3 separate regions of the Homo sapiens genome follow, and regions 1 and 2 are each linked to region 3. A link means that fine-mapping ties the variant in region 3 to the expression of a gene that starts in the linked region. Tissue or cell type: whole blood. Region 3 holds a variant in brackets; each other region holds the start of a gene. All regions are shown on one strand. Distances are from middle to middle.

Evidence for each region. PIP is the estimated chance that this variant, and not a neighbour inherited with it, causes the effect.
Region 1: AVIL starts here. The variant in region 3 is fine-mapped to the expression of AVIL in whole blood (TOPMed, PIP above 0.99).
Region 2: it holds the start of CTDSP2, and the variant in region 3 is fine-mapped to the expression of CTDSP2 in whole blood (TOPMed, PIP above 0.99).

Annotation. Positions count from the first base shown.
Region 1 is chr12:57,813,784-57,821,885 of GRCh38, forward strand. It overlaps AVIL (advillin), which reads right to left and starts at 4,951. Exons shown (of 20, transcript NM_006576.4): 1 at 4,846-4,951; 2 at 2,192-2,276; 3 at 369-443. The coding sequence starts at 2,257. CTDSP2 (CTD small phosphatase 2) reads right to left here. Exons shown (of 8, transcript NM_005730.4): 8 at 6,144-8,102.
Region 2 is chr12:57,842,050-57,850,151 of GRCh38, forward strand. CTDSP2 (CTD small phosphatase 2) reads right to left here and starts at 4,680. Exons shown (of 8, transcript NM_005730.4): 1 at 4,323-4,680. The coding sequence starts at 4,386. It overlaps CTDSP2-AS1 (CTDSP2 antisense RNA 1), which reads left to right. Exons shown (of 2, transcript NR_188077.1): 2 at 210-1,712. RefSeq lists silencers at 3,122-3,171, 3,502-3,801, 4,392-4,821, 4,832-4,911, 4,982-5,161.
Region 3 is chr12:57,979,091-57,987,192 of GRCh38, forward strand. It overlaps the pseudogene ST13P8. Among named protein-coding and RNA genes, the nearest start is that of ATP23, 42 kb to the left of the region's middle. The variant C/T (reference allele first, on the strand shown) is at 3,409.

The DNA.
Region 1 (8,102 bases), 170 kb before region 3:
CAGCACCGTTCATGTGAGTCTCCTCCATGAGAATAGCACTTTGAGGCTAGAGACAGGCCTTGCATTTATCAGGCCTTCTTCCACACCACTTTAATGTGGGGCCTAGGCCCGGGAGAAGTGCTGCTTGTGGGTGGCTCACTGAGGTTCAGACTGAGGGTCCTACCCCCATCCTCTTATGCAGCATTAAAAACCCAGGCTTAATGATGGCCTTTGATAGTCAGACTGGAGGTCTGCTCTGCATAGCACTGAGGAACCATTGAGACCGATACCAGGGACTGACTACCTTCCCTCACCAGCACATCTCCCAGTACAGCCCAAGAACTGGCCCCAGGGGAGAGGCTCACAGGAGTGGGGAGGAGGGTGCTCACCGAGAGGATGACGTAGCAGTCCCCCTCATAGAAGTTGCCGTGGGCGCTCACAGGCACCAGCGCCAGCTCCATTTTCTGGAAGGACAAGGGGTGGGTATAGGCTACATCCCCTCCCACCTCCCTTCCCCATGAGCCTCCCTCTCCTCTCTGTCATTCGGTGCAGGTGGTGGGGAGAAGGAGGGGAGATGTTCTCAATGACCTTACAGGATGTGAGGCTGCCAGCCACAGGGTTAACGTGGCCATCCCTCTGGCTTCTGTGAGCTCTGCTTGCATCACCCCGGATCTGAACCTTGGTCCCTATCCTGCTTTCCCTTGCCCTATTCTCCACTCTACTTCCCACCCGATCTCATCTCGCACTATTGTGGGAAACCTGTGAACCACCTCCAGCCCTTTGCTGGATATAAACGACCAAGTACAAACCCTTCTCTGAGCCGTTGTGCCAGCACCTCCAACGCTCTTCCCAACGCTGACCACTGGGTGCTGGCCCAGGCCCATGTAAGAAAGAACACTTGGATTCTGTGGGGCCGTGGGAGGTGGAGGATAACATTTGGAGAGTGCCAGCGGTCAGCAGGGCTCTGTGCCAAGTGTCTTATATTTGGAGTCTGGGTCAGGGCCCTGATTTATCACTGCATGTATGGCTTGGCCCTGGAGGACTGTTCACACAGCCTTGATGTAGATTTTCATCACACTCCCCAAGTGAGGGAAACTTGCGGCCATACTTGTGTGTGTTCTATGTAAAATGTGATAAATGTTAAATATACTGCAAATCTGGTAACCGTGTTTTAGTACTTGTTTTTTGTTTTTGTTTTTGTTTTTTTTGAGAGGGAGTCTCCCTGTGTCTCCCAGGCTGGAGTGCAGTGGCGCGATCTCGGCTCACTGCAAGCTCCGCCTCCCGGGTTCACGCCATTCTCCTGCCTCAGCCTCCTGAGTAGCTGGGACTATAGGCGCCTGCCACCATGCCCAGCTAATTTTTTGTATTTTTAGTAGAGGTGGGGTTTCACTGTGTTAGCCAGGATGGTCTCAATCTCCTGACTTCGTGATCCACCCGCCTCAGCCTCCCAGAGTGCTGGGATTACAGGCGTGAGCCACCGCACCCCGCCAGTACCTGTTAGTTTTTAAGGAAACTGGAAGCCTTCAAACAGTGGAAGTGACCTGGGACTCACAATCTCTGCGAGGCTTGCTGGAGAGCTGACTCCCCCTCCTGGTTGAGGATAGTGAAGTGAGGCATCATCGCTGGGTTTTAGGCAGCAGCAACTGACTGGGCTCAGGGCAGGGGTTGGGGGGAATCCTCGTATCTGGCAGGTGGAGCTACCCAGGCCAGGGTGGTTCCCAGCTATGGATTGCTGGAGCTCACAGCCGCACAGAGGGTCCCAAGCCCAAGAGGAGACGGGCTGAACAGCTCCTCATCTCTGCAGTGCCCCCTCACCTCTCCCCATATTTTGTAGGAGCCAGGGTGCCCCGTGGAAGACATGTTCCATTTCTCTGATGGAAGCTGCCAGGAGTCTGCTGAGTAGGTCCCACCTGTCTTTCCAGGGTGTTTCCTGCAAGTGCAGACTCACTGAGCAGGTGGCTGGCTAAAGGACAAGCCTGTTTTTGTCTGGAGCCCTGTTCTTCGGGGCTGAACATTTCCTCCACCTGCCAACCACCTGCTTTGAGCACCCAGGAGAGGTGAAGGATGGGAAATAGGTACTTTGATGCTGCCTCTCATTCTCCTCAAACCATAGGCTAAGGGGTGCTGGCGGGCTGTTGCCTAGCAGCCCCAGGCAGCCAGACTGCTTCCAGATGCCAGTGGTCACAAGTAAGGTGCCTCCAGCCCAGCTCACCTCTATTCTCCAGACAATGATCCCAGGGTCGTTGTCCACAGCCCTGAAGGCACTGGTCAGAGGCATGATGCTTGTCTTTCCAGGACTGAAACATCACAGAACAAGAGGGGAGATGATATCTCTTGCCATAGTGGGCATCAATCCAGTTTTTCTGCCGAGCTGCTTCCCAGTCTGTTGTCAGCCATCCTGCCACACCCTCATGGTGCATCCCTGCACCATTTCACAATGATGGGGGCAAGGACTTGTCCAAGTGCACATGGTGAGCCTGGCTGGCCTGGGGATTACCACCCATGAGTTCTGCTTCCCACCTGCCATTGCCCTTAAGAGCTCTGGTAATCGTCATGGTTATTTACCAAAGGGGTGATAAATATGTTAAGCCCTGTATTGATTCACTTTGCATATGTTATCTCTAATTTTCAGAAGGTGAGTTTCTTCATCTTACATTGTGTGAATCTGAGGTTTGCAAAGGCTGAATAACTTGTACAAGATCACACTCTAGAATGAAATCCTTATCTGATCCCCAAACCTGTGCTTCTAGCCACTTTGATGTACTACAACCCTTCCTAAACCAATCTAAGTTCAGTGGCATTTGGAAAGAAAAGCTAGTCAGAAAAAATATTTCCAAACTCAGTTGCCTTCTCTCACTCTCATTCCAATTCTTCCCAAGTTCCCTGCTTGCAAGGCCTTCTCCACAGTCAACTTTGACCTTCTCTTTGGCTTTTGTCCTTTTTTTTTTTTTTTTTTTTTTTTTAGAGTAAACTATTCTTAAACTCAAACAACCCTTCCTTCTTTTGTCACTACTATATTCCCTGTGCTTTCCAGATGCAAGGAAAGTAAAATGGCAGGGCTGGGCCTGGGACAAAGGGTTCTGGGTGCTAGCAGGGTGTGGCCTGGTCTGGCCTGCGGACAGATGGCTTCCTTTTTCCCTCCCACACAGACCCAAGCTTCTGTGTGGAAGCGTGAACCTCAGACACTTAGACGTCTCCAGTTCCTTCAGGATTGAGCAAGTCAGGGTGGGGAGAGGGGGGAAGTGGTAAAGATCTAAGTCTGTGTAGGTCGTGTACCATCTGTATTCAAGGAGCATCTTGGGTAATTAAGCACCTACCCATGTCCAAGGCCACGTAGAGGCTTTATAGAATTAAAATACCTGCTCTCAAGGAGCTTGAAATCTGATAACATGCATAATTAATGTAAAGCTAGATTAATTTCTCCCAAGAGGCAAAGGAAAAAGGATGGGGTTGATGGATTTATGTAAGATTTAAAAATTCACCCAGAAAGGACTGTATGCATTTTTGCTGTTTGGGGACATACTGTTTGTTAAGAGGAACATGTCTGACCATTGTTTTCTTGAACCTTGATGGACAAAGCCAAGTTTGGAGAGCATGCGCCATCTAGTATGGACTTTGGCAAAAAACCATAAAGCTCAAAGCAGACTCGCTTTGTCTACTGCTGTAGCAGGACTAAAGCAAGGCAATGGTGCGGAGCAGCCAGTGTTTGAGAATTTAATTTGATAACTTGTGCTGCCCCACCCTGTGCTGCTCAGAATTGCCAGGAAATATGGTGTTTGGGTTTTCTTCAGACCCTACGTAGCAGTCATTAAAGGCAAAAGCCATGAGCCAACTAGGGGAAGGGGACAAGGGCCACTGAATTCATTCCTTGGAGACAGAGAACTGTCACCCTGGTAAAAGCCAAACCAGCCGGCAGCAATTAGGACTGTGAGCCTCAGAGGCTGAAACCTGTCCCGTTTCCCAGCAGGAATTTAGGAATCAAGGAGCTCCCTGGGCCAGGCACCCCGAATGCGAGAGGATAAGCTCCAGGAAGGGACTTCCTGTCACACTGGAACACACAGAAAACACAGTTCTGACATCAAATCTCCCAAAGCTGGGTCTCTCCTTCTCCCTAAATCCTAATTCAGTATCCTTTGAGAGGACTGCAGAAACCCCTTGGGTGTGGGGCACAGTTTTGAAATGTCAGGTTAAAAGCCAGTGGCCTGTAATTCTCAGAGATGCCCTTTTGGACGGACCCTGAGCAGAGGAAGCTGTTTTTTGTTGTTGTTGTTTTTGAGACAGGGTCTTGCTCTGTCACCCAGGCTGGAGTGCAGTGGTACAATCACGGCTCACTGCAACCGCCACCTCCTGGGCTCAAGTGATCCTTCTGCCTCAGCCTCCTGAGAAGCTGAGACCACAGGTGTGCACCACCATGCTTGGCTTTTTTTTTTTTTTTTTTTTTTTTTTTTTTTGTAGAGACAGGGTCTCACTATGTTGCCCAGGATGGTCACAAGTTACAAACTCCTGGGCTCAAACAATCCTCATGCCCTGGCTTCCCAAAGTGTTGGGATTACAGGTGTAAGCCACCTCTCTGGGCCAGGAAGCTGGTTTTAACTCCTCCTGCCTTGCTCCATACCATCTTTCTCTAGGGATAGGTGAAAGGGGTCTGTCTTTCCCAGCTTTTGAAAATGTGCCCTATATGTTCAGCTGCCTCTAAGGGGTTCTTCTGAACAAGAAGTTTGCAAAACTGGCCAGCCAGACTCCTGGTTCATTTTAAAAGCCTCATCTCAGAAGACAAAGCCAAGGGACTCTCAAGCTCCTCTTCCTTTCATTTCTTCCTCATTCAGGAGGATTAACTGGCATGCCCCCGTAAATCAGAGACCTTACCTTGCCTTCTCGCTCACCAGCCTTCCCAGTTTCCCGGCGCGTAAGCAGCAGCAGTATTGAAGAACCACTCCAAAGCAGGAGGCTCCAGGTCCTGCTGCCTTAGCTTAGTAATGGCCGCAGAGATACTGGGTTATATTTGCTTGTGTTTGCATCTTAACCGCATTTTCCTAGTCCTGGCCAATCAGAGCCAACCTAGCACTGAGCTTGGCTTATTCAAACCAGAGGGAAAGCTTTATCTGTGCCTATTCAAAACAGCAAAACAGAAGAGCAGACTTTTAAAGGCTTCTTTGAACTCCAGCTCCACGCCCTGATCTAATTGATTTTTTAAAAAGTGCACACAGCCCATCAATAATGCAGGAAAGAGGTTGGAAGGATATGAAATTTGCCATATTGTAGATATGGATGCATTATGGTGATGACAGGAGGAAGAGGCTGGAGCTGCCCCATGAGTGCCTGTGATGTCTAGGTTGGCAAGAGCCTCCCTAAGAAGCTTCTGGCATTTCTCAAAGGGAGGGGAAGTCTGGGAGAGGAGCCAGAATTTTATTAGGCCACAGTTTTGCTCGTTGGGGTCTCTACTAGTCATACAGTAAACCAATCAATATTTGAGTGCCTGCTGTTTGCCAGGAACCATGCTGGGCTCTCAGCTTCAGGGTTTCCAGTTTGGAAGAATCAGTGAGGGGCAGAGAAGAATCAAGACTCCATTCCCAGGGCTGGGTGTGGTGGTGGCTCACGCCTGTAATCCCAGCACTTTGGGAGGCTGAGGTGGGTGGATCACAATGTGAGGAGTTTGAAAACAGCCTGGCCAAGATGGTGAAACCCCATCTCTACTAAAAATACAAAAATGAGCCGGGCGTGCTGGCAGGCGCCTGTAATCCCAGCTACTCAGGAGACTGAGGCAGGAGAATCGCTTGAACCTGGGAGGTGGAGGTTGCAGTGAGCTGAGATCATGCCACTGCCTCTAGCCTGGGCAACAGAGCAAGACTCCATTTCAAAAAAAAAAAAAAAAATAATAATCCATTCCCTTAGGGCTTCTGGTTCATGCCCAGAAGTCAATAGGACATCAAGCATATACACGTGCTAAGCACCTGACTGCAATGGGGTTGATCACAGCAGAACTTGTGTAACCTTGAGCGGAAGCCCTGTGTGGCATCTGCAGCTGGCCTCCCGGTGGGTGCAACACCCCACTCAGCCCGGGGGTGCAGCTGCTTCATGATGGAAGGGGTTGCGAGAAGAAAGGCGGTGCTTGCCATGGGCCCAGTGAACACTTAAGGGCCAATGAAGGTTGGTGGCAGCTCACATTCCTGGAAAGGTTTTTTAAACCCACTTTTATTAATTAATTGTAAGTAATACAAATATTCCAAAAATATAAACAGACACTTAATGGCGTCCTGCATTTCAAGTTTTTGAATACAACAAATTTATCAAACCATGAATCTGTAAGCAAGGTAGTCAGAATCCCATAGCCCAGTCACAGTGGGAAGCAGATCCCCTACCCTCCAAATGGCATCTTGAAGGGGGAAAGCGGCACGAAATGGAACATGATAAGCAAAAAAGCTCACGAGGCCCAAAGAGGAGGGTCCGCTCCATGGGCAGGCCCTACAACGTTAAAAGAATGGGGCAGCTGGCCCGACCTCTGGCCTCCTCTTCCCTGGCTGAATGTAAATATTTACCAGCATTTAGAAAAAAGGAGAAAAAAGACAGAACTAAACCCGTTTAGGAAAAAGGGACCGAGGGACAGCAGTGGTTAAGTAATCCACTGAGGACCTGAAGGGGAAAATGGACTTACCTTTCTCATATACTTGGCCTGGCTAGGACACTGGGTGCCAGACAGCCTTCTGAGGGGATTTTCTTTCTAAATGAGGCCTCAGGAACAGGTAGGGGCAGCAGAATAGAATAGCATCCATTTCCCAGAGAAAGACTGCCTTTACATTTCCCATGCTTTTAGCACAAAGCAGCGTCTGGGCCACTGTTACCAGAGGTGAGTTTATACATTTACAAAATGCTTAAAATCTTTGGGAAGCAAGAGGAAGCTAAACAGAAGGTCCCATGTTAACTGAAGGCAAATTCACTCAACCTCTCTAGTAAGGGACCCATGGGCCTACAGAGTGTTCCCTCTACAATGTGCAGAGTGGAAACCCTTACCTGACCCTTTTCCAAACTGGTCCTGTGTCCAAAGCTCCCCCTATGAGAGGGACACGAACATCAGGCTTTTGATTTAGAAGCCCAATCAGAGAGACACACTGTGTCCCTGAAGAGGCACCTTAAAAGAACTGAACCTGGCAGGTAGGCAGATTCCTGGCATGGCTTGAATTGGTGCTGACCAGGCATGGTGGCCTATTGCCTCCCAAAGACCAGTCTCAAGTGGGAGGGGCTGATGGTGGGAAGCCCTAGAAGAGAGTCTGGGATGAAGCGGCCTCCTCCCTGTCTTGCCCTCCAAAATTGAGTCTGGCCTGATTCCTTTGAGGAGCAAATTTTACAATCATCCCTCACCCTAACACACGGTGAAACTGGAAACCCGACAGCAAATAATGACTAGGCTGGCTCTGGTCCACAAGAACAGACCCTGGCTAGGTTTGGCCGAGTAGCTTCTCTGGGGCAAGTGGGAATGGCATTGTTGGGGGGGAGTTGCAGGTGGGCAGGCAGGGTTCTGATGGGAGTGAGGCCTAAAAAGCAGGGGCTTCATGCAGATGCAGCAGGGACACTCCCACCAAGCCATCCTGGGCTTTGGTCATGGGTCCCACGCCAAGCACTTGGACAAGTCTGTTAGGAAAGGGGGTGGCACATGCTCTTCCGCCATCTGGAAAAACATGGAGATCCAAGGGAGGGCGGAAAGGGTCCTTGCAACTCAGTCAGCTTAGAGCCTCTTATTGCTTATTTAGTCAGAAAAGCCTGGCTGGGCCTAGACGGCAAAAGATTTGGCCAAGGGCTAACCCTTAGGGTGGGGCTTGGAAGAGAGGCCCCTCCTGCAATATTAGGATAGCAGCCTAGGTCAGGCCTTGGGTCCGAAGCCACAGCTGGCTCTAAGAGTCTGAGCTCCTGCTTTCCTTCAAGAGACAGTATATTTCTGGCTAGCACATGGGGTCCTTCTCCCTTTAGGTACACCGGGACCCCATAGGCACCGGGGAGTGATGCTGGCGGAAATGGCCACATGAGTTCTGGGGACTCTGTTCCACTTTATGATTCCAAAGAGAAAGACAAGGCCTTATAACCTTGGGACAAGAAGGGAAGGTGGCACCACAACGCTAGAGAAAAATGCC
Region 2 (8,102 bases), 140 kb before region 3:
CTCTGTCCAATCTAAGAACCAAACTTACCATGATGGGAATAAAAGACAATACCCCAAATTACCCAAAAGCTAGCAGAAAAAAAAAATTGTAGGAGGAATTGGAAGGGAAGCTATGTATTGATATGTACACACATACACACAATCCCATATATATTTACATATTGTCTTTCTTTTCCATGCTTATTTACAAACACTTTAATTCTTCACAGGTTGGGAGCATCAATTCACGTTGGCTAGAAATGTGACTTCTTTAGTATTTACCATTTTAACAAAATCCATGATAAGGGATTTGGAAGGTCCCATGGAAAGGATGAAATGACACCTCTCTGCTACCCAGTTTCTTTAAGACCTCTACGGTTGAGAAGAGAGGACAAAGGAACACCCCCACCTCTGCCATCCTCCGAGGGATTTTTCACAGCAATTCCAGTGCTGCTCAGTGGAAAGCTCTGCAAGTCAACTGCAAACCCCCAGCCCCAGATGTTAGGCATTTACAAACTTTGTTGCTGATTTATCAGCGCTCCTCTGCAATTTTGGGGACAGGAGCAAACACAAGCTTAAGTCACCACGCAGGCTGCAACCCTTACCCAAAGATGGGGGAAAAACTCCAAAGGAGATGCAGGAGGGAGCCTCAGCAGTCACTGTGAGAGCACAAAGAGGCCAAGACCCAGGGTAGGCAAAGGAAGGTGAGAGGCACCAGCAGGGCAGGAGGAGGAGCCAGCTATAAACATGCAGGCTTCCCGCCCCCTGCATAGCAAGCTATGGAAGGAAGCTCCAGCAAGATTCATGTCTAAGCTTTTCAAGTTAAAGGCTTGCCTACATCTACAGTGAACGGTGTCTGAACAACTTTTTGAGGGAATAAGGCAGAATTTCTCCCTTATGCGGATAACAAAAGAGCTAGCCATCCTGAAAACTTGCCACATCGTAATTTTCAGAGATGGTCAGTCTCTCAGAAGAATCCTTGCAATTAGCTATCAGAACCTGTCCAGTTCGGCATGTGAGAAGGTAATCCAGGGCATCATCGAGAGGAAGGGGCATCAGGATTCATGGACAACAAAAAAATCTCTGATTCCTCCAAAAGGCGTGTGGGTCACTGAGCTCCGGAAGAGGCTGCCTCCACCAGGTCTCATTTCACGTTGGGAGGTTACAGCGTGGGTCTTGTTTCCTTGGCTTTCCCCCATCTAATCCCAAAGCCAAGGTCACAACCTCTTAGCAATGGGGTGACAATCTCATATAGAGCTGCAATCAACAGCCATTCTTGCCAAGCTGATATTAACATTTCTTTTTTCTTTTTGATGTTACACACAATCCTGTCCTTGCTGTACCAGAAAGCCATTTCACCCATCTGTCTGGGAAGATGATCCAATTTTGGTGCTTTTATCATCAATGCTTTCAGCAACTTTGTTCTACTTCCCCTACTGTAATTACTTTTGAATCATCAACGCACCCAGACAGCCTTAAACCTCAGAGAACAGAATGCTAAAAAAAGAAAAAAAAAACCCGCAATGGCAAGTAACTTCACTAAATAGCCACCCAAGCTAGGAGCAATTTGTTTCTTTCCAGAAATTTACTTATTAATAATAAGTACCTCACACTCCTTCTTCCCCTTTTTCCAAAGGCAGGCAAGGCATGGAGATGGGATGTTGTGGAGAGGACGGAGTGGGGAGAAGAAGGAACTCCAAAAGGAGCCAATTAAAACATCTGCTTCCCCAGTCCCCCAGCTTTTGTTTTTTGTTTTGTTTTGAAGACGTAGGTTTTGTTTGTAAATGATGTGGGACTCAGAAAGTTGGTTTAGTGGTTGCTGGGTGCCTAAGCAGCCCAGGAAGAAAGTCTGTCTTCTCTGGAATGCAATCAAATTACATGGGGAGGGGCCGGGCGCGGTGGCTCACGCCTGTAATCCCAGCACTTTGGGAGGCCGAAGGGGGCTGATCACCTCAGGAGTCGAGACCAGCCTGGGCAACTGGCGAAACCCCTGTCTCTACTAAAAAATACAAAAAAATTAGCCAAGCGTGATGGCGCGCGCCTGTAATCCCAGCTACTTGGGAGGCTGAGGCAGGAGAATTGCTTGAATTTAGGAGGCGGAGGTTGCAGTGAGCTGAGATTGCGCCACTGCACTCTAGCCTGGGCAACAGAGTAAGACTCCATCTCAATTAAAATAAAAAATTACATGGGGAGGGAGAGACCCAGTGGCTGCTGGCTTAAACCACACACACAAAAAAGGAGAAACATTAACTCCAAGAAAATCCAACACCAGCAACTTAACACTGTCAAGCCAGTTGCTTTGCTTTCTGCTGTTATCTATTCTGTAGCCTGCCATTCACCCTGGTGGATGAAACTTCCAGCTCTGATTTCTAAGATGCCCCGGCGCAGTCCAGCTTTCCCTTACTCCTCGCGTGGCCCCACGATGCCCAAGGCACACTCCCTGCAAGAGAGTCCCTGCAAGAGAGGAAGACCTAGTGGGGAAGCACAGGGCTCCTCCCCCTACTCATCACCACTGCCCCCTCTTGAATCCCCCCACATCTAGGTTTCTTCCCCTCTGGCTAGCTCTTAGGGTCTTTTCCTGGGATAAAAAGGGAGTGGGAAGAGTCAGGAGTGAGCTATAAACACACGCAGGCTCCCTTCCTTTTTCAGCCATCAGCACAGTTGAGCAGCCAGCAGAGGCGGTGAAGTTGCTGCCTGGGTCACAGCCTGGTTAGTGATGCAGCCAGGAGAGCAGAAATCATGGCAACACCGAGGTCAGGGAGGCCGGAGCCTTCTCGGGGGTTGGGATCTGAGTAGGCAAGGCCATCCCTTCTCAGGGCAGGCTTATTTAAAGTCCGGCCAGTGATGCAAGAGGAACACACTGCCTCCCTCCCCCCACCCTTCCCCCCTCCCAGCTCCTCTCGTTCCACTGAGGGAATTTGGGAGAGGCTGACACCACCAACTCAGCGGATTTGCCCCTAGGGAAGTTGGGGGAGCTCCTTGGAACGTGAACCCCAGGAATTAGTGACCTGCTGACTAATGTTGCCAAACGGGGAGACGTGGGGCGCACGAGGCCCCGAAGCTGGCCGCCCACCAGGCTCTAGGCCTCAGTGTGTTCAACTGCAGCACCGGCCCTTCGCGCTCGGTGGAGAAGGGGAGGGAGCGCTCCGGCTTCGGCCCCAGGAGCCAGCTCCCGCCCCAGCCTCCGGGGCCAGGTGGCCCCGGTCGGGGGGCTCTCTAGAGAAACGCCACACTCGTCCTTACACCCCGCGGAAAATCTGCCGCTATTTTGGACACATTCCTCAAGGCCAAAAGAAGAACGTGGCGGAGGGGGAAAGAGTTTCGAGTCTCCCACTGTGACCAAACTAAGAGGTTCCACCCTCGGGCCCCAGCTTTCTCCCGCCCCGGGAGAGGCCTCGGCCTCCGCCTCACCCCCGCGAGGGCCTGCGGGCCCCCTCGCGCCTCCACCTGACGCTCTGGAAGGCGGGGGCCGCCAGCCGCTGCCCACAGAGAACTCGCACTTTTTCGCTGCGCGATTCAGAACCACGCCGGGTCTGATGCCATCCGGCGAATTATGTAACCAGGGACACCGCTCCCGGGCTAAACAAACGCGGCTCTGTGTGTGCAGCGCCGGCCCCGGGGGAGCGCACCGGGCAGGGAGGGGCTCTGGCCGGGCCTCAGGGTCGGGCTTGTTTGCTCAGCGAAACTGGTCAGAGGCAGCCGGGAGGGAGCCCGACGCCGCCAAGGTCCCGGGGCCTGCGCTGAGCCGGGAACCCGCCACGTCTGGTGCGCCAGGGCCCGGGCCCCTCCCCCACCGCGACCGCCCCCGCCTCCAAGAGGTGAACTTGGTCCCAAGTCCCGCCGGACGCCGTCACCGCCAGCTAGCTGCCCGAACGACCTCGGGCTTGGGGGGGCCTGCAAGTGCTGGACTCCAGTCTCGGTTCCGTTCCACCTGGGGCTCCCTCTGTCACCTTCCTAACCCCTCCCCGCGATCCCGGGGCAGCCGCGCGCGGCGGTGAAGGAAAGTGACGACCCCACCCCCAACTCCGGAGGCGGTGGACGCGGAGTGGCCCAGTGCTTCGAGAGCTACCCCTCCGTCTCTCAGCCCCGAGGGGGAGGGGTTGCGGGACAGGGTGACAGCTGCGCCGAAGACGCCCTTTCCGCTCGGGCGCCGGGATCCCCGTGCAACCCCCACGGAGGTCTGAGTGCCAGCCGGGATGCGGGGGCGGATGGACCGGAGGGGTCCAGTCGGGATCGCTGGCTCTAAGCCCTGGAGGTCAAGGGCCGAGACCTGGGTTCGGGGCTGTGCTAGCCCCCTCCGCGCCCGGGGGCGACGCAAAGTTTTGGGAAGTTGCTGCCCCTACCTTGCTTGGTGAGCACCAGGGCGTCTTCCCTCCGCGCCTGGGTGATGATGGAGCCGTGTTCCATCTAACAATCCCGCGGGCCCGGGCTGGCTGGGCGGGAGGACGGGCGGGCGCGCGGGCTGGGCTGGGCTGGGGGGCCTGGGCGGGGGCCCGCTCCGGCTCCCGAGACTCCGACTTCCACAGCTGTTCACATCCCCCCTCTCGTTTCCTCCCCGGACCGGGAAGGGAGGCGGCCTGTACAAAGGGCGGGCGGCCCGGGCAGCGGCTCCCCCGGGTGCCCCCGGCCCCGATCCCCCAGCGGCAGCTCCGGGCTCCTCAGTTTGGGTCCAACATGGAGAATCCGGAGCGAAAACAAGAGGAGGAAATGGGACACGGGGCGGTTTCCAGGCTCCCCCCTCCCCTCCGTACTCCAGATAAACAACCCGCGGCTGCAGCGCCCACCCCCGCGCGCCTCCCGGCTCTCGACTCGGCCTCTTCACGGCCAGCTGGAGCTTCCCGCTGGGGGCTGCGTCCTAGGCCCTGGGACCCTCCATCTGTGAGCGGCCGGGGCTGCGGACAGTCGGGAGCTTTGCTATTTTGTTACGGAAAAAGCGAATCCTCAAGGGGGGTGGGGTGGCGGGCGGGCAGGCTGGCGGGGGAGACTTGAAACCGTTCCGGTGCTCCGATTGGCTCTCTTGGAGAAAAGGGGCGTGGCCCCTCCTTACTATGCGGTGAGAGGACCTAACAACATTCCAGGCGCCACGGCCACGCCCCCGGGCCACTCCCCCCGCGCCAGACTGCGGCCTCCCAGTCTCCTCGGCCACACCCCCTTCCCAACTATTTAAAAGGCCGCTCCGAAGCTCACGTTCTGGTGCTCTGTGCTGGGGTGTTCTTTTCTCGGAGGGCGCACTCGGGGAAGGTGGAAAGGTTTCCCCCTTCAGGGGTGACCAAGACAAGCCGCTAAGCCTAACCTGACTCCAGCAGGGGATGGGGCGGATCGGAAGTTACCTTACCCCCCTGCTTAGCCCTAGAATCAAGGACGTACCAAGTCACATAAAAGTACAACCGTCGAGGCCAGGCGCGGTGGCTCACGCCTGTAATCCCAGCACTTTGGAAGGCCGAGGTGGGTGGATCACGAGGTCAGGAGTTCAAGACCAGCCTGGCCAAGATGGTGAAACCCCGTCTCTACTAAAAATACAAAAAAATTAGCCGGGCGTGGTGGCGGGCGCCTGTAATCCCAGCTACTCGGGAGGCTGAGGCAAAGACTTGCTTGAACCCGGGAGGCGGAGATTGCAGGTAGCCGAGATCGCGCCACTGCACTCCAGCCTGGGCGACAGAGCGAGACTCTGTCTCAAAAAAAAAAAAAAAAAAGTACAACCTTCGAATCCCGAAAGGGGTGTGTGCGTGTGGGCGGACCTAGGACTCCAGAGTATAAGAGCTGGAACTGACCTCGGGACTGTGTCCCCCAAAACACTGAAAATGAGACCTGAGGTGCTGGGCTTTCCTCACACCCACCGACTTACTCCCATTTAGGCGGCCCCGACTCCGCCCCTCCTCCCTACCTCCCTCATCCTACCCCTCTCTTTTTGCCCCCACAGTCCCAGCTTCCTTTAGATGGATGGAGGTCTCTCGGAGGAGCTTCAGCTTTGTGGACTCAGGCTGCCTTCCCCACTTGCTCTTTAGGCCTCGGGGCACGCTCCGCTGGCTACAGCTCCTGGAGTCTCTGCTCAAGGTTGTGGGTGCTTTTGTTCCCCAGCGGTGGTAGCTCCAGAAAGGCTGGTTTCAGCTCAATATCAGGTCTTTTCCAGTGATCTACATCTGTCCACAGGTGACATGGGCTGCCTTGGGACAATGGTAGCTGTTCAAGTCAAGGCCGGCAAGAGTGGTGTAGAGTGAGATTGCACTGGGTGACTTCTGAGCTAAATCCAACCCCAATATTCTGTGATTCAGTGGCACTCACCCTGCCAAGGAAGGGGCTTCCTTCCTGCTGCAGTTCCCATTGCCCAACATGCATCAGGTCTTACTGATGATTAGAGGACAACTAGGTCACAGCTAAGCTTGCCAGGTACTATCAGACACCTGCTTCCTATGGTCCCTTCCTCATGAGGACAGGTGAGGTCATGATCTGCATATGCCTGTGTGCCATACAGTGATCATGTGTGCCTGTTTCTGCTGTTCCTACGCACGTATACAAAACCTTTTTATATAACATCATTTTAATGGAAATGCTGTTTTTCCAAAATGAAAGTGGCTGTTACAGATCTGAATGATGCTTATGTAACTTTAAACACTGAATTTGGGTAGATCTTAATTCATTAACAGAAAGGGAAACGGAGGAGTTCTGACATACCCACCTCCCATCATTAAAACAATAGGATCTTTAAGGTAAATCTTCAATAGTCAGGTTGCTATGGGGGCCTTTTTAGACCCTTCCCCTGCCCTCTTCTAAGGTAGATTAGTTGCAGTGGGAGGAATGCAGGCAGGAGCTGAGGACTGAGGATTTAGAGGGGCCTGCTACCCATAGCACTGTAGGGCAGGACACTTCACTTCGTTATGCTTCCATTTCCTCATCCATAGAGACAATACCTCCCCTTTTGTAATTTACAAAGTACTTTCACATATATTATCTATTTCATTTGATCTCTCACTTCTTTGAGGTTGATAGAGCAGATATTATGCCCATTTTTATAGATGCCTGTTTTGTAAATGAGGAATTGGTCTGGGAAGGTTAATTGACTCACCTGAGACCTCACAGCTTGTTAAGAAGAGGAGACAGGATGTCTTTGGACTTTAAGACTAGAACCCTTGACACTTTAACATAGTTCCCTTCTTATCTATAGGATGGAGGAGACACTAGAACCTATCGCTCTCTTTTCCTGCTGTGAACTCCAATTGCATCACCTCTCCTGGAAGCCCTCCCAGATGCCCGCCCTCATGTCAGGGTTTTATAGCCTCATACATACTCTCTCAGACCACTTGGCACCCTATCTTGCAACTGTGTGCTTATTGGCTTCCCAACCAGAAGGTGGATTGAGACTAGGGGATGTCTTATTCTTTACTGGATTTCTTGTGCCTAGCAGAGTGCCTAACACAGAACAGGTGACTTGTACATGTTGAGATGAAGTCTCACTCTGTTGCCCCAGCTGGAGTGAAGTGGCGTGATCTTGGCTCACTGCAACCTCCGCCTCCCCGGTTCAAGCAATTCTCCTGCCTCAGCCTCTTGAGTAGCTGGGATTACAGGCACCTGCCACCATGCCCAGCTAATTTTTCTATTTTTAGTAGAGATGGGGTTTCACCATGTTGGCCAGGCTGGTCTCAAACTCCTGACCTCAGGTGATCCACCTGCCTCTTGGCCTCCCAAAGTGCTAGGATTACCAGTGTGAGCCACCATGCCTGGCCTTGACTTTATGTCTGAACCAGTGTTCTTTTGTCCAGGGATTTGTTCAGTGACCTACAGCAAGAAACACATTTTATGTTGTGAGATAAATGATACAAAAGTTTCATGGACAATACTTACCCTGGCTATGTGTGCACACTCATATTTTCTATTGCACGTATTGTGTTCTATTTGATGGTTTTAAGGTGCCAGCCATGACCTTTTAAATTGAATTCACAAACCACCACCGGATTGTGACCCAGTGTTAAAACAATGCTACTTTCACTCCTGGATGCAGTAGATGCCTTCATGTGTGTCTCAGGGCTCTGGCTGTCCCTGAAAGATGCAGAGGAGATGGTCCTCAAGCATTTCTTGCTCTGAGGTCAAAGAAAAATTTATGTATAACAGATAGAACCCCTTCCAAG
Region 3 (8,102 bases):
CATGCTCATGGACAGGAAGAATCAACATCATGAAAATGGCCATACTGTCCAAAGTAATTTATAGATTCAATGCCATCTCCATCAAGCTACCATTGACTTTCTTCACAGAATTGGAGAAAACTACTTTAAATTTCCTATGGAATCAAAAAAGGGCCTGTATAGCCAAGACAATCCTAAGCAAAAAGAACAAAGCTGGAGCCATTGTGCTACCTGACTTCAAACTATACTACGAGGCTCCTACAAGGTTACAGTAACCAACACAGCATGGTACTTGTACCAAAACAGATATATAGACCAATGGAACAGAAGAGAGGCCTCAGAAATAACACCACACATCTACAACCATCTGATCTTTGACAAACCTGGCAAAAACAAGCAATGGGGAAAGATTCCCTGTTTAATAAATGGTGTTGGGAAAACTGGCTAGCCATAGGCAGAAAACTTAAACTGGACCCCTTCCTTACACCTTATACAAAAATTAACTCAAGATGGATTAAAGACTTAATTGAAAGACCTAAAACCATAAAAACCCTAGAAGAAAACCTAGGCAATACCATTCAGGACATAGGCATGGGCAAAGACTTCATGACTAAAACACCAAAAGCAATTACAACAAAAGCCAAAATTGACAAATGGGATCTAATTAAACTAAAGAGCTTCTGCACAGCAAAAGAAACTATCATCAGAGTGAACAGGCAACCTACAGAATGGGAGAAAAATTTTTGCAATCTATCCATCTGACAAAGGGCTAATATCCAGAATCTACAAGGAACTTAAACAAATTTACAAGAAAAAATCAACCCCATCAAAAAGTGGGAGAAAGACATGAACAGACACTTCTCAAAAGAAGACATTTATGTGGCCAATAAACATATGAAAAAAAGCTCATCATCCCTGGTCATTAGAGAAATGCAAATCAAAACCACAATCAGATACTATCTCATGCCAGTTAGAATGGTGATCATTAAAAAGTCAGGAAACAACAGATGCTGGAGAGGATGTGGAGAAATAGGAACGTTTTTACGCTGTTGGTTGGAGTGTAAACTAGTTCAACCATTGTCGAAGACAGTGTGGCTATTCCTCAAGGATCTAGAACCAGAAATACCATTTGACCTAGCAATCCCATTACTGGGTATACACCCAATGGATTATAAGTCATTCTACTATAAAGACACATGCACATGTATGTTTATTGCAGTATTATTCAGAATAGCAAAGACTTGGAACCAACCCAAATGCACATCAATGATAGACTAGATAAAGAAAATGTGGCACATATGCACCATGGAATACTATGCATCCATAAAAAAGGATGAATTCATGTCCTTTGCAGGGACGTGGATGAAGCTGGAAACCATCATTCTCAGCAGACTAACACTGGAACAGAAAACCAAACACCAAATGTTCTCACTCATAGGTGGGAGTTGAACAATGAGAACACAACAGGTAGAGGAACATCACACACCAGGGCCTGTTGGGGAGTAGGGGGCTAGGGGAGGGATAGCATTAGGAGAAATACCTAATGTATATGACGGGTTGATGGGTGCAGCAAACCACCATGGCACGTGTATACCTATGTAACAAACCTGCATGTTCTGCACATGTATCTCAGTCCTTAAAGTATTAAAAAAAAAAATCCACAAAAATTAGCTGGGTGTGGTGGCACATGCCTGTAGTCCCAGCTACTCAGGAGGCTGAGGCAGGAGAATCGCTTGAACCCAGGAGATGGAGGTTGCAGTGAGCAGAGATCACATCACTGCACTTCAGACTGGGTGACAAAGTGAGACTGTGTGAAAAAAAAAAAGGCATTGGCTTTGAGGTGAAATATGAATGCTTAAGGCAGAATACCTCAATACCAGTTTATATTATTAATTCTGGAAAGATTTTAAAGACAATGTTATATGCACTGTTTTCTACAACGTGTCCCTATAAACCATTTTTGAGGGCATTGGAAGATTATGGTGGCTGTTTCCATATTAAAATGTTAATGTCTGAGTCAAGTTGGTGGTTTTTGAACCTGAAAGATCAAATAGTTCTATTTAATTGTATTAACCAAATTGATTTTAAACCAGCGGAATTATTTGCAGTGCTTAAAAAGTCATTATTTTCCATTCAAGTGAGATAAATGGGTCACCTTGGGATTTGCAGCTGGAGTTTTCCTTTATGATAATATATTGGGAACCAAGTCATTTGTCCTAATGACACTCTCAGCAAAGGTTCACCAAACCTGTCTTGATTAATTTTTCAAAAGCACTTGAAGAGATTTACCAATTACACTTTCAGGGGTTGATTTGATCAGCTCCACATGGTTGCACAATCTGCATCTTGCTACTTAAACTCCAACAGACCAAAATGGTTAAAAGAGGTCTGATGGAAATAAACTATGAACTCAATTCTAATGTGGTCTAAACTTGTATGCTTTAAATTACTGCATATTTGGGATGCTGCATATAAAATGATCTAATGCAAATTCTCAAATTCTGAAAAAGTAGTGAGGGAGCAAATATTAATTCCATTTTGCCAGTGAGAGATACTGTGACAGAAAACGATAAAGGAACTGAAGATGGCACACTGAACACCACCACAGGACGATTAATCGTTTTCTTTCATCTCCGCTCCCATCCTTCGTTTCTGTGGCAGTTATCATTACATTCTGGCAGTAATGTGGTGGTAAGTAATCTGCATTTTCAATTCTCACAGACATTATACAGTTCCATTTTGAAACAAATTGCTTTTTCTTTTTTGGTCTCTTCTAAAATCTTTCTTCTCAAAGTATGGTCCTTGGCTTAGCAGCAATGGCATCAACTAGTTGCTAATTAGAAATGCCCAGATTCTGCTAGATCAATCTGTTTCATTCATGTGTATATTAAAATCAAGAAGCACTCTCTGGCCAGGCGCAGTAGCTCACACCTGTAATACTAGCGACTCTGGAGCCTGAGGCAGAAGGATCTCTTGAGGCCAGGAGTTTGAGACCAGCCTGGACAACATAGTGAGACCGTGTTTCTAAAATAAATAAATAAATAAATAAATAAATAAAATTAGCCAGGCATGGTGGTGCACCTAGTCCCAACTACTTGGGAAGTTGATGTGGGAGGATCGCTTGAGGCCAAGAGTTCGGGGCTGCAGTGAACTGTGATTGTGCCACTGTACTCCAGCCTGGGTGACAGAGTGAGAATCTGTCTCAAAAACAAACACACAAAATCCCAAAAAACTTCCACAAGTTCAGCTGTGCAAGCTTGAGAATCACTGCTTTAGCATAATGTTGCATCTGGGTGGCCTCACTTTCAAACTTACCATTCGTAAAACGGAATTTTTATATGCTTTTTATATAGTATGTTTGTTGCTCCATAAAGGAAGTTGAGGAATTCAGGATTGTTCTTACTTAATCCATCCATTAATTAAATAACT[C/T]TTCTTTTAAGAACAAATGCTTTTAATCTCATGACTAACAAACCTTGTTATGTCAATTTGTGCATTAAGCATTGTTATGTGAAAACCTACTCAGCGTTTCACAAAATGTGAGGAAAGAAATAGAAAATAAAGAAATGTGTTTGGTTTTAGTCATTATTACGGTAGGATAAACTCTGATTATCATAACAGAAAAGAATTTCAATTATGAAATTCAGAGCACACATGAGAATAGATAAGGTCACTAGGTAAGATACAGGAAATCCAGTTAAATTTGAATTTCAGATCAACTGTAAATATTTTTTTTTTACCTAAGAATTTAGCATTTTTTAGTATAAGTATTTAGTAGAAATAGGTTCCATGAAAGTACCTGGGACATAGTTTTATTTGCTAAATCTGGCAACCCTAAGAAATAAGCCAGGCAAAATGAGGGGTAAATTATTATATTTATAATCATTAAAAATTGGAACCTATATGATATGCTATCAGGCCAGCTACATAAGTTACCTTTTATAGAATATTTTACAATTAAGGAGCAATAATGTATGCTGTGTTCCGTGATTGCAGCTCAATATGAAATCTCTAAGTAATTTTGATCAAGAAATTTCTTTGCGTTGATGTCGAAACACAAGCAATAATAATTTAAAATAATCCCATGCATCCTGATTACCATTCTACTAATTTTATTAATTTATGTGTAAAATGTTGAACCAAAACAATACACTGCAATGTTCTTAAAAGAAGAGGAGAGAGAGAGGAAAAAAAAAGGAGAAAAAGAAAAGCCATACCGAAATTCTGAGCTGTTGGAAAACTCAGCCAGCAGCAGAGGGCACTAATGTATCACTGATGAATTGTGCATCACAAGAGGCTTAAACATTTTTTTTTTTTTGCCTCGCACTAATAAACTTTTATTTCACTCAAATTAGAGCAATAATCTTCCATACATAAGTATTTTCCCTGCCCAATAATTCAAATAAAAAAATCCAAAATGATTAATAAAGAAAAATATAAGAATTAACAGACCCTTTAAATTTGTTTTACATATTTTTAAGGTTTAAAAAGGGTTTAAAGTTTGTAATTCCTAGTAGGAAAACATTATCTGAATGAATACTCTAATGGCAAACCACCGTAAAATGCTTCAGCTGCATTCGGGGGAGAGGGGTAGGGATTATCTTCAAAGCACTCCAGCTCTCTTGATGAGAAGGTCAGAGGTACACCGGTTTGTATTACTGCATCATCCATAAGGTGATCTAGGTTGCTTTTCCTTCAGCAATGCCTTTATTTATCGGAAGGGCATTAGGCTTGACCTCCAAATTTGGCTGACAATTTACTGATAAGATTCATAACCTTTGGATTGCTCTGGTATTTTGACATATTTGCTGGGTTCTGAGCCACATCCTGGAAGGCCACCATGACTTCTGGATCCTGCAAGGCTGCAGGAACCTCTGGATCACTAAGAATTTCATTGGGTCCAGGCCTTCTGGCCATCCTAGGTATGCCCCCTCCATTCCAGGTATTCTTCTGGGAAAATTACCAGGCATTTCCCCAGGAAAGCCACCTGGAAAAAAGCCAGACTGAGCTCCTGACTATTGTCTGGCTTCTTCCTCCCTCTGGGCTCTCTCATGCTCTTCCGAGTCTTCTTAACTCTTTCTATTCTTTCTTTGGTCTCTCGCTCTTCACGTTTTCGCTCATACTTTCTCCGATGTTCTGTAATTTCCTGTGTCCTAGGTGGAATCAGGATTTTTTTCAATGACTCTGTCACAGTCTCGGATGGCAGAATTTGGCTTCTGTAATTTGATGAAGACACTGGCCCTCTTGGCATACAAAATAGCCAAGTGAGGATTCAGCTTGATGGAATCTGTGATAAGTCAATGGCTTTCTGCAGTTCACCATCATTTAGGGCTTCAACAGCAGCCACTTTCTTATCATTTGCCTGATCCATCATCTCCTCTGTTATCTCTGCATTTTCATCTCCCATTTCTTGAGGGGCATCAGTGTCTGGTTCAATCACACCTTCATTATTAATTTCTAGATAACTTTCCTTACTGGATGGTTCATCTGCCTTTAAGTCTTCCTCCACATTCTTACTACCAGATTTTTCTTCCTTGGTATTTTCTTCTGATTTAGCTTTCTGACTAGCAGGTGGCACTTTACTCCCCATGCTCTCCACCCACTCCCTCAGGAAGCACATTTCCTTGGTGTGCAGAACGCTGAGATCCTGCTTACACATTTTCACAAAGGCCCGAAGCGTGTTCACTTCGGGAGGCGGTGGGCAAAGCTAAGGGGCTGTGGCTGGTTCCAGGCCCAGGTGCTGGCTTGGCATGACCTCGTAGAAGCAGGCGGCTGCCGGGAGACAGAACACACTAGAACCTTCCTGGCCACTGGCTCCTCTTCACCCAACGGTCTCGTGACCCCAGGTCCTCTGCCTGCTCATTCCTATTCCCTCTGCGCTGCTCCTGCCCTCTCCCTAGAACCTTCTAGAAGCGTGGCTGTTCGTGCTGTTCCCTGCCTTTCTGCGCACACATGCTCATATTCTTAACTAGGGACCAGCTCCCTGGATGGGGCAACCCCTGACATGGGTGCCTTCAAGGAGGCGGGGGATAGCAGCCCTTTCAGGGAGCAATGTCCAAGAGCATATTCTGTGGCTGCGTGCACTTGAGGCTTAAACATTTTTGTAATGCTTTGTTCAACTTAGATTTTATTTAAATATTTATTTTAATCAACTTTGCCATGCAGTGTTGTTAAAAGATTAGAAACTAAAAGCAGTTCTAGTGTACTGTTCAGCACTTGCATGACCCTAAATAACATATATATATATATATATTTGCTTAAGATCCTTCGCTAAAAAAGTACTTAACCATTTTGGCAACTGGATGTACTATGTTTCTGGTTTATGCTTGAATGCCTGGGTCTTTACAAGTGTGTTGACTGTGTGTGAGGGACCATAGGTCTAATTAAGGAAGGCAGTGGTGGATGGAGGCTTGTGAAGTTAAGGAACTAAATCTAGTTGGGTGGGAGATGGCCATGGCTGGACTGACTTAACTCCTGAACCAGACAATGAAGTGTCATATGATACATTTCTGTCCCCAGGCATACAAACCTATACAGAGGTGTGTATAAGTGCAGTAAAATTCAGGACTATTTCATTTTCCCCACAGTAATGCCTTTATGGACAGAGAAGGAGAGTTCATTTTGGCCCTCTTTGTGCTAGCCTTGGCATTGCATATATTTGATTTCATTCCAGTTTCATGACAACCCTGTGAGGTAGGTGTTATTATCATCTGTTTACAGATGAAAAAATCCCCAAGGCTGAAAGAAAGGATATATTTCAATGAACACTATCCTTGTGTATAGTGGGCACTCAACATTCATCTAATGTAGCATTTCTTAAACTTTGGTCTGTAAGACACTGGTACCATTCAAGGTTTCATAAGTTTTCCTTATCAAACAATTATGGGAAATGTTGCAAATTTTAACTGTCTCTTAGAGTTTCACAATGCACAAAAATGTTTTAAAATTTCTTAAGAAATTATGTGGTAATGCAACTTATTTAACTTTATGCTTAGGTTTCTCAATCTTATTTAGCTAAATAATTTTTCTTTTCCTCCCATTTTTAGTAGAACTACCATCCATGTGGCAAGGCATACACCTTTTGTGAAACATGTTTTGAAAAACATGGGTCTAATTATGTATGGAGTATATTTTCTGGTAGGAATTAGAGGAGTTAGTTCATTATTATCATCATTCTTAGAAAATATGTATTTGGGTGGCGATTCCTCAAGGATCTAGAAACAGAAATACCATTTTTCCCAGCAATTCCATTACTGGGTATATACCCAAAGGATTATAAATCATTCTACCATAAAGACACATGCACATGTATGTTTATTGTGGCACTATTCACAATAGCAAAGACTTGGAACCAACCCGAATGCCCATCAATTATAGACTGGATAAAGAAAATGTGGCACATATACATGATGGAATACTATGCAGCCATAAAAAAGAATGAGCCCATGTCCTTTGCAGGGACATGAATGAAACTGGAAACCATCATTCTCAGCAAACTAACACAAGAATGGAAAACTAAACACTGTATGTTCTCACTCATAAGTGTGATTTGAACACTGAGAACACATGGACACAAGTAGGGGAACATCACACACCGGGGCCTGTTTGGGCGTGGGGGCAAGGGGAGGGAGAGCATTAGGACAAATACCTAATGCATGCAGGGCTTAAAACCTAGATGATGGGTTGATGGGTGCAGCAAACCACCATGGCACATGTATACCCATGTAGCAAGCCTGCACAGTCTGCACATATATCCCAGAACTTAAAGTATAATAATAAAAAAAAGAAAATAGGTATTTGGTACCTTCAATTTGTAGGGCATTGGGATAGAATCCAGAGATATGACACAAACCCTGTTAGAGAGAGAGAGGAGTTTACAGTTTATATGAAGAGGCAAAAATGTCTTTGGTTTGAGTGGGAATGTAACTTTAACTCCAGTGCTCTTCTTTCTTTAATTTTTAGCGTAGGATGGTGGTCATGGATAACAGGGTTTCCAATGATTTCTTAATGTGACATTCTGTTTTGTTCCCCTAGTAAACAATTACCACTTTCTTCCATTAATTTAGTATGGCTTAGATATTTGGAAGGATGAAAAACTTAAACATTTGAATACAAGTAAATCCCAG